2 separate regions of the Homo sapiens genome follow, and region 2 is linked to region 1. The links come from fine-mapping of genetic effects on gene expression. A gene starts in region 1. The other region holds a variant in brackets. All regions are shown on one strand. Distances are between the middles of the regions. Region 1 holds the start of S100P (S100 calcium binding protein P). Region 2 has its middle 6.7 kb from the start of LINC02482.

The links. PIP is the estimated chance that this variant, and not a neighbour inherited with it, causes the effect.
Region 2: its variant is the best candidate, but not a certain one, in a credible set for the expression of S100P in whole blood (INTERVAL, PIP 0.66).

What each region holds. Positions count from the first base shown.
Region 1 is chr4:6,691,359-6,696,448 of GRCh38, forward strand. It overlaps S100P (S100 calcium binding protein P), which reads left to right and starts at 2,520. Exons shown (of 2, transcript NM_005980.3): 1 at 2,520-2,712. The coding sequence starts at 2,575. RefSeq lists enhancers at 1,204-1,741, 2,051-2,787, 2,788-3,523, 4,726-5,090.
Region 2 is chr4:6,664,660-6,669,659 of GRCh38, forward strand. No RefSeq gene overlaps it. Among named protein-coding and RNA genes, the nearest start is that of LINC02482, 6.7 kb to the right of the region's middle. The variant C/G (reference allele first, on the strand shown) is at 3,068.

The DNA of each region.
Region 1 (5,090 bases):
TCCCAGCTACTGGAGAGGCTGAGGTGAGAGGATCACTTAAGCCCAGGAGTTGGAGGCTATAGTGAGCTGTGATTGAGCCACTGCACTCCACCCTGGGTGAGAAAGCAAGACACTGTCTCTAAAAGTAAATAAATGGGGCCAGGCACGGTGGCTCATGCCTGTAATTCCAGCACTTTGGGAGGCCGAGGTGGGCAGATCACTTGAGGTTAGGAGTTCAAGACCAGCCTGGCCAACATGGTAAAACCCCATCTTTACTAAAAATACAAAAATTAGCTAGACAAGGTGGTGCATGCCTATAATCCCAGCTACTCAGGAGGCTGAAGCAGGAGAATCACTTGAACCAGGAGGCAGGGGTTGCAGTGAGCCAAGATCGTGCCACTGCACTCCAGCCTGGGTGATAGAGCGAGACTCCGTCTCAAAAAATAAATAAAAATAAATAAATAAATAAAAATTTTAAAACAAAGTGATGACCGGACTGGCCAACATGGTGAAACCCCCAAAAAATTAGCCTGGTGTGGTGGTACATGCCTGTAGTCCCAGCTACTCGGGAGGCTGAGGCTGGAGAATCACTTGAAACCGGGAAGTGGAAGTTGCAGTGAGCCGAGATCACACCACTGCACTCCAGCCTGGGCAACAGAGTGAGACTCCATCGCAAACAAACAAACAAACAAACAAAAAATATATGTGTGTGTATATCTATATATATATGTGTGTGTATATACATATGTGTGTGTGTATATATGTGTGTGTGTATATATGTGTGTATACATATATGTGTATATATGTGTATATATATGTGTGTGTGTGTGTGTGTATATATATATCTATATAACGCAGTGAATGCCCTTCCTGAGGAGCACTGCCTCTGGGGTAGGGAGCCTCCTTCTCTCTCCCACTTCTCTGGCTGGGGTGGTATGATGGTGGCCTGTGCTGTGCGACCTTATCCCAAGAGGGAACTGCCCAGCTCAGGAGTGAGCAGAATGGACCTGTCCCTGCTCCCCAAGGGGTCACCAGTGGGGCCAGTCTGAGCCTCCACTGCAGGACACCTGGGCAGAGGCAGTGTGTTCTGAGAAAGCCGGCTCTTGTGAGACCTGCTGCTGCCATCGTGCACCAAGGTTTTTCTATGTTGAGCCACAGCCCCGTGGGGAGAGTCTCGGCCCATGTGCTGGTGGAGGCTGTGTTGGGAGAGGTTAGGGAACTTGCTGGAGGCTGACACTCTGGAAGATCTCTGCTGAGAGAGAGGCCTTTGAGTGTGGGCCTACTTTGACCGGGGCAGGATGTGAACACAGGCCCCTACCTCCATGCTCTCCAGGACTCGCTCAGCCTCCCAAGCACAGACCCTCTGAGTACCTCCGCTATAGAGACGGGGAGGGGTGTGACTGTCCCTGACTCTGCCCAGAGTCCCAGGAGCCTTTGTGCCGTCTAAGCCCTGTGGGTGATTTGGGTTTGGTAAGTGCCGGGGCTCAAAAAACAACACCCCAACGTGGAAGCCTCAGAAACAAAAGTTTCTCTGTCCTGCTCCCACCCTCCTGTCTCCAGCTCCTCCTCCTCTGAGAGGCTTCCCCAAACCCTGCCATAAAACCCAGAAATATGACTCCAGTTCTCCACTCCCTCCCCTTTCTGTGTAGAAACCAGCCTAAAGAAACCCTCTGGCCTGCTTTATTTGACTGTAGGTCATAAGAGCTCCATTCCAGAAAGAGTCCTGCCCCACACCTAGAAGGAAGGAGAGCTGCTCAGAGAGGCCCCAGGGAATCTGACTCAACAGGCCCTACCAGGCTCTCCTCTTGGTCTGTGAGCATCCAGCCTTACTTTTGTATCCAATCATATTTCCATACTTCGCTGAACTGTGTTTATGGATAGTTTCCACCAGATCTTTGGATCTTCATCTTGAAGGCTGCCGTGCCACATAAGCTATGATCAAATACATCTGTTATGCTCTTCTCCTATTCATCTGCCTTCTGCCCGTTGATTTTCAGCAAACTCCCAGAGGATGAAGGGGAGTTTTCTGTTTGGCCCCACAGGGGAGGAGCGAGCGAGATTGACGTGGAAGCTGGGCCTCTGAAGGACACAGAGTGCTCTAAGAAAGGGACGATGGGGCAGATCCATGTTCACAAACACGCCCATGTGAATTCACTCTCAGATGTCTCCTCGTGTCAGCACGCTGGGTGCCAGCACGCTCTGATATTGACACAAAGGGCCACGGAGTCACCACTCACTCCACACACACTCACCCCGTGCCCACTTACCCAGGGAGGGCCAGGAATGAGGATGCCACTGTGGCTCAGTGATGGCGCCGAGACACAGGTGAACACTGTAAAATGTGGATGCCTGGAGGCAGCCCACACCCTGGGCCTTGGCTGGGGGAAAGGTTCCAGAAACGTCATCACAACGATGCATTTCATCAGAACTGAGCACATGAATGGGGAGGGGCAGGACTTCCTGAATGTCCCAACCCCACTGTCCCACCCTCTGTGTCAATATGAGGCTGCCTTATAAAGCACCAAGAGGCTGCCAGTGGGACATTTTCTCGGCCCTGCCAGCCCCCAGGAGGAAGGTGGGTCTGAATCTAGCACCATGACGGAACTAGAGACAGCCATGGGCATGATCATAGACGTCTTTTCCCGATATTCGGGCAGCGAGGGCAGCACGCAGACCCTGACCAAGGGGGAGCTCAAGGTGCTGATGGAGAAGGAGCTACCAGGCTTCCTGCAGGTGAGCCAGGCCGGCAGTGCTGGACTCAGCGGGGGCTGGGGAAGAAGGGGAAGGCGTGGCAGGCAGAGGGCTGAGAGCTGCGGTGGGGTCGGCGGTCAAGGGGCTCAGAGGCAAGAGGGACAGATCCTGAAATGCCCTGGAAGCCCAGCCAAGGAACGGACCCACCCTGGCATAAAGGCAGGGGAGGCGGGAGCATCTGAGCAGGGAGAGGGTGTGGTCAGCTTGATCCTTGAAACATGGGGTTGACCCCAGTGTATTTGTGACAGGCCTGGTGGGAGAGTGGGACTCAAACCTGTGCAGTGGGGGCAGGGGCGGAATGCAATCCAGGGCTGCCATTTGCAAGTTTGCCAAGCTTGCCAAGCCCTTGAGCCCTCGGGGCTGTCCTCCAAGGCTGCCGGCCATAAACGCCCCAGCTCTGCCTCCCACTTGCCCGCTTTCCCTGCTCCCATTCCCAGGCCCCTTGTTGCCTGGTATTAGTGGGTCTGGCAGGAAGGACGGGAGGAGGCTCCATCCTGGCACCTGTCTGCGCAGAGCTGTGGACCTCCCTTGGGCTCCCTGCCAGGGAGGAGCCACCGGCCTGAGCCTCACAGAAGGCCCCTCAGGGCGGCCAGGACCAGCTTCCTTCCGCCCGGGGCAGCCTCCGGCTGGGCTGAACAGAAGCCGTACCCTCTCCATTTCCCCTTCCCTTTGACCCCTGTCCTCTCCTTCTTTCTCACTCCCCCACTTTCTTCCTTCCTTCCCCTCCCCTTCGGGCCCCACCAGACTCTGCCTACCTGCTAAGGGGCTAACCCACATAGATGCTGATAATCAAAAATGAAAGCCTGAAATTTTCAGCCCTAGAATCACTTCAAAGACATGAAACACTTCAGAATATTGCTTCTATTTTCTTTTCTTTTCTTTTTTTTTTTTTTTGAGACAAGATGTCACTCTGTCACCCAGGCTGGAGTGCAGTGGCAGGATCACGGCTCACTGCAGCCTCGACCTCCCTGGGCTCAGGTGATCCTCCCACCTCAGCCTACCGAGTAGCTGGGACTACAGGTGCATGTCACCATACCCGGTTAATTTTTGTATTTTTTTTAGAGACAAGGTCTCACCATGTTGCCCAGGCTGGTCTCAAACTCCTGTGCTCAGGCAATGCGTCAGCCTCGACATCTCAAAGTGCTGTGATTACAGGCGTGAGCCCCGACACCTGGCCTAGTTCTATTTTCTAAATGTGAATTCTGTAAAGATATCTTTTAAAAATAAAGTTCTGTTTTTGGTAGAAAATGTAAAAATAGATAAATATGGAGGGAAGAAATCCCCCCTGGAATACAGACGCTTCCTCTCCCTTCCAGCCTTTTCCCCATATGAACATTGCTGTGAGTGAGATTTACATGCAATGTAATTTCTTTTTGAGCTTAACATTACAACATAAATTCTCAAACTCTGATGTTCATTAAACACCCCAGCCCCATCCTGGGAACTTGGGCTTGGGGCTCGGGGTGTTCTGATAATGATCAAAGTATGAGAATTGAACCCATGAGGACTTTGATCCAAGATACTGGGGTGTGGGGAGGGGCAGGCACAGGTGTCCTGGGAACACACTTTGAGAAGCAATGGCAAAGCTGGGGGTCCAGCTAATGTGTTACATTAGAATCACCTCGGGGAGGCCCTGGGTGCCCTTCTCAGCCCTCCCTCCGGAGGCTGCTGAAGCCCAGCAAAGCCGGAGTCAGAGAACAATGTCCGCCTGAGGGCAGGGCTGGGCTGGGCTGGCCTTCTGGCCCTATCTGCTCCGTGCCCAACCCAGCGCCCCGCACAGTCGGAGCTTTGTAAATACGAGGTGACTGTCTGCCTACAAACTTTGTAAACATCACTTGAAATGGCCGCAGGGTATTGTGACATGGCCATACCACTATTTGTTTGCTATTGAATTTGTACTTCCCTGCCTTACTTTTGCTATTGCAAACCATGCTGTCACTAAGGTCTTCATGCACACAGTTGTGTCTTGGTCAGATGATATGTTTCTACCAATTTTAATTGTGTTTCTTTCCACCTGGACACACAGCTCTCTGGCCCAGGGCTGGGTCATCAGCACACCCTGCTGCTGCTGTTCAGATCTGCATCCTGGTCCCGCTTGGTCCCACAGTGAGAACGCTTTGCTATCACATGGGCAGGCTCTGAGAGCCCTGCCGGCCTGGCCTTCTCAAAGAAGACCTGAGAGCTTGGGACCCAAGCAGAGAGGAAGAACAGGGCTCAGGGTGCTTGCTCCATGCTCGCTCCACACCTGGGGCTCAACCCTGGCTTTCCCCGGCTCCCTGTGTGACTTCAGGGCAGGTCCCTTGGGCCCTCTGGGCCTTATCATCTTCATCTGTAACAGGGCGATGCCTCTGCCGTGTCTG
Region 2 (5,000 bases), 27 kb before region 1:
CGTCTCAAAAAAAAAAAAAAAAAAATTCTTTGTGGGTGATGCAGGTTCAGGAACCGCTGCACACCGAGCGCTTCCCGCGCCGCCTAGAGGTGATGGGAACAGCTCCTGAGGAAGGTGGCTCAGCCTCGGCCTGCAGCTCCTCCCAGGCCTCCCGCTCCCTGCGCCCAGCGGCTCTGGCCCGGCCGCGCACGCTCACACGAGCATTCACACGCACACTCATCATGCCCACTCACACACACTCATGCTCACACTCACGCTCGCACGCACACATTTACACACTCATGCTCACACACATACACAGGTTCACACATGCTCACATACATCCGTTCACATTCATGCTCACATGTACACTCATGCGCTCACACGCTCACACTCATACACGCTCACATAGTCATGGTCACACTCACACATACGCACACCCACTCACTCATGCTCACACATACACCCGCTGACACTCATGCTCACATGCATATGCACTCACATGTGCACTCACATGCTCAGTCATACACGCTTACACACATGCTCACACAATGTCACACACATACACACATTTACACTCGCTCACACTTATACCCACATGTATGCACATGCACACTCACACTCATCCACACCCACAATACATGCTCACACCCGTTCTTACTCATGTTCTCACACACACCACTTACATTTATGCTCACACCCATACACTCACATGTGCACTCATGCTCACATTCATACAGGCTCACAATACACAAGCTCACACTCATGCTCACTCCCACACATACATATGCTCACACTCGCTCACATGCTCACATGCGCATTCACATGCTCTCAGACACCTGCTCACACCACTCACACATGCTCACACTCACACGTGCACTCATGCTCACTCATACACATACATGCATTCGCATACACACACTCGCTCACACACCACTCATGCTCACACACACGCATACTCACACTCACTGGGTGATAGTGCAGTCTCCTCCCAGGCCTCCTTCCCGCTCTCCGCGGTGCTTTTTTTTTTTTTTTGGAGACGGAGTCTCGCTCTGTTGCCCAGGCTGGAGTGCAGTGGCGCGATCTCGGCTCACTGCAAGCTCCGCCTCCCGGGTTCACGCCATTCTCCTGCCTCAGCCTCCTAAGTAGCTGGGACTACAGGCGCCCGCCACCACGCCCGGCTAATTTTTTGTATTTTTTAGTAGAGACGGGGTTTCACCATCTTAGCCAGGATGGTCTCGATCCCCTGACCTCGTGGTCCACCCGCCTCGGCCTCCCAAAGTGCTGGGATTACAGGCGTGAGCCCGCGGTGCTTTTATCACAGTTCAGAAGCCTCAGCCACTTGACTGCAGCTCAACCCCACAGTCCCAGGCTGTTCCCCTTGCCGGGAGCCGCTGCTGGCGCGCCTGAGGGTTCAGCGTGGGTAGGTAGGTGCAGCCCACCCCCAGGGTGTGCCCTGAGGGTTCACCGGGGGTGGGTAGGAGCAGCCCATTACCACAGTGCAGCCTCACTCTGTGCGACCTTCACAGGCCAGGGATGCTGCAAATTTGGTCTTCTGAGTCCACCCCAGAGGGCATTCTGAGTCCCCCTCTCCGCTGCCCACCCCAGTTTGTCGCCATGTTGGCTCCTTGCCTCTCCTGCACCTCGGCTCTTCCTTTAGGTTCTGGCCCCTCTCGTCACCTCAGGCCCGAAACCTTTGGAAGCCTTAGTTCCTCCACAACGTCTTAACAAACTCACCCTCCTTCACCAAAGGGGAAGACGGGGTGGATGAGGGGATAAGAAAACCCTGTCTCATGGCAAGAACTTTTAAATATACTGAACGTGAAGCGGAAGCAGCCAGCCTGGGTGAAGACAGGGGATTTGTGGTCATGCCTTTGGTCTCATTTTTTTTTTTTTTTTTTTTAAGACGGAGTCTAGCTCTTTCGCCCAGGCCGGAGTGCAGTGGCGCTATCTCCGCTCACTGCAAGCTCCGCCTCCCGGGTTCACGCCATTCTCCTGCCTCAGCCTCCCGAGTAGCTGGGACTATAAGCGCCCACCACCGCGCCCGGCTCATTTTTTGTATTTTTAGTAGAGACGGGGTTTCACCGTGTTAGCCAGGATGGTCTCGATCTCCTGACCTCGTGATCCGCCTGCCTCGGCCTCCCAAAGTGCTGGGATTGCAGGCGTGAGCCACGTTTTCCTGATAGCACCACCCTAGGCTTACCTCTGTCCAGAAACCATTTCTTTTTCTTTTTTTTTTTTTTTTTTTGAGACGGAGTTTCGCTCTTGTTGCCCAGGCTGGAATGCAATGGCGCCATCTCGGCTCACCGCAACCTCCGCCTCCCGGCTTCCAGCGATTCTCCTGCCTCAGTCTCCCGAGTAGCTGGGATTACAGGCATGTGCCACCACACCCGGCTAATTTTGTATTTTTAGTAGAGACGGGGTTTCTCCATGTTGATCAGGCTGGTCTCGAACTCCCGACCTCAGGTGATCCTACTGCCTCGGCCTCCCAAAGTGCTGGGATTACAGGCGTGAGCCACCGCGCCCAGCCTCAGAAACCATTTCTTAACGTTAGCATTCCTTGCCATCCTGAGAGGCTGGGAGGGAGAAACAGTGGTGATTACAAACCCACAAGCCCCAGATCCTTCAGAGTTAAGAGTTCCGCTTGCATTTTACTCTAAGCAACCAGAGGTCAGGCAACTCTTCAGCAGTGCCTGGAATCCGTTTCATAAGTACATGCTGTCTCTTCCACGTTTCTGCAGAGTTTAGGTATTGCTAAACTCTGCTTCTGTGTAACAGGGACCCCTTTCCTCCTGTTACTGTGTCCCCTCAAAATCCATGTTGAAATCCTACCCGCAATGTGATGGGGTTAGGAAGAAGCTTTTGGGGGTGGCAAGGTCATGAGGGTGGAGCCCTCATGCATGGGATTAGTACCCTTATCAAAGGGACCCCAGAGAGCTCCCTCGCCCCTCCTGCCATGTGAAAACACAGAGAAAGGGCTCTCCCTCCCCAAACACTGAATCTGCCAGCGCCTTCATCTTGGACTTTCAGCCTCCAGCGCTGTGAGGAACCTTTGTTTCTAAGCCCCCCAGGCTATGACATTCTGTTA[C/G]AGCAGCCTGGTGGGCTGCAGCACCTCCAGATGCCTCACTCTTCTTTAGGTCTCCACTGAGAGCCTTCTCAAAGCCAATAGGCTTCCTTTGTCTCTTCAGCATCCTTCGGCAGCACTCCATTTCCAGATACGGATATCTCTTTCAGTGATCTTTTTTTTTTTTTTTTTGTGAGATGGAGTTTGGCTCTTGTTATCCAGGCTGGAGTGCAATGGCACGATCTCAGCTCACTGCAACCTCTGCCTCCCAGGTTCAAGCGATTCTTCTGCCTCAGCCTCCCGAGTAGCTGGGATTACAGGCACCCCACACCACGCCCAGCTAATTTTTGTATTTTTAGTAGAGACGGGGTTTCTCCACGTTGGCCAGGCTGGTCTTGAACTCCTGACCTCAAGTGATCCACCTGCCTCAGCCCCCCAAAGTGCTGGGGCGCCCGACCAGAGATCTTTTTACATAGTCTCCACAGCATGGCAATTTCAGGGGAGCCAGACTTCGTATATGGTGGCTTTGGCGTCCAAATGTACAAAACCCAGGAGAGTAAGCATCGGAAGTCCCATAGCATCTCTTTGCCATATCACCTTCACAAAGTCCCGCCAGGGTCAAAGGGAGGAGACACAGACTCCACCTCTTGATGGGCATGGCAAGGTTCTGGAAGAGCAGGTGCAACTGTTAGCAATTGCATTGTGGCCGTTTCTTGAAAATACAACGTGCAAGACACCACGTTTTACTGCCCCGCCCGGCTAGCAGTGGACGTGGAGACAGCTTTGTTGTTGTGGCCGTGATGCGTCCCACACTCCAGTGGCTCGCGCTTCCTGTACCAGACACTCCATTATGGCAGCTGCCTTTGGTGGAAGAATTTAGCATGACTCAGAATTGTGTCGAGCCCAGAATCTTACCAAACCCAGAATCAACATTGTTTCAGATAAATAAATAGTAAATTCTTTTGTTATTCCTAGACTATTCATGTAATGTGGGTTAAGTCATACACAATGTGGTCTGACCAGTTATTATGTGTAATGAGTGTTAAATGGAGTGTGGAACTTACCCAGATTTTCTGAATTAATTCTGATAGAAATAAATTCCACTTTCTATGTCTTTGCACAGTCGTTTGTGTAAAAGAGACCATCCTGTGCCATAATTAAGCACTTGAGGGAAGGCTTCTCCCAAACGGGCTGAAAGTTCACAGATGTGAATTACAGATGATCGGCATGAACTAAATGGCATCAGAGAAGGTGAAATTAAGGACTTTTTTTTCCTTTTGTCCTGGTTACCTCTGTCCACATCCCCTCTTCTCAGAGCCTGATGTGGCCTACAGCTGGCAGTAGTCTTGTAATCTTGATTGTAAAATGTACAAGCTGGCCAGGCGCAGTGGCTCACACCTGTAATCCCAGCACTTTGGGAGGCCGAGGCAGGCAGATTGCTTGAGCTCAGTTCAAGACCAACCTGGGTAACATAGTGAAACCACACCTCTACAAAAAAATACAAAAAAATTAGCCAGGTATTGTGGTATGTGCCTGTAGTCCCAGCTACTCGGGAGGCTGAGTTGCGAGGATCACCTGGGCCAGGGAGGTCGAGGCTGCAGTGAGCCGTGATCGCACCACTGCATTCCAGCCTGGGCAGCAGAGCAAGACTCTGCCTCAAAAGAAGAAAAATAGGACACAGAAGACACTTGGGTTTGGGTTGCAAAAGGGGTGAGGAGGGGTTTTGGAGATACAAAAGGAGTAAATATTGTTTCCTGAAGAGGATGCTTCAAGCCACAGTTTCTAAAGAGAAAATCCAGAACGTCTGGGCCTCCAAGCAAGATCCCTTCACCTGAGAGTGAGCAAATGAAGACATGGGGAAAAGAAGAGACTGGCATTTTAATGTATCCGGGATTATAATCCCACCTACGGCCATCAACTGGCTTTTGCTGCATGAGCCACCCTAAATCTCCGTGAC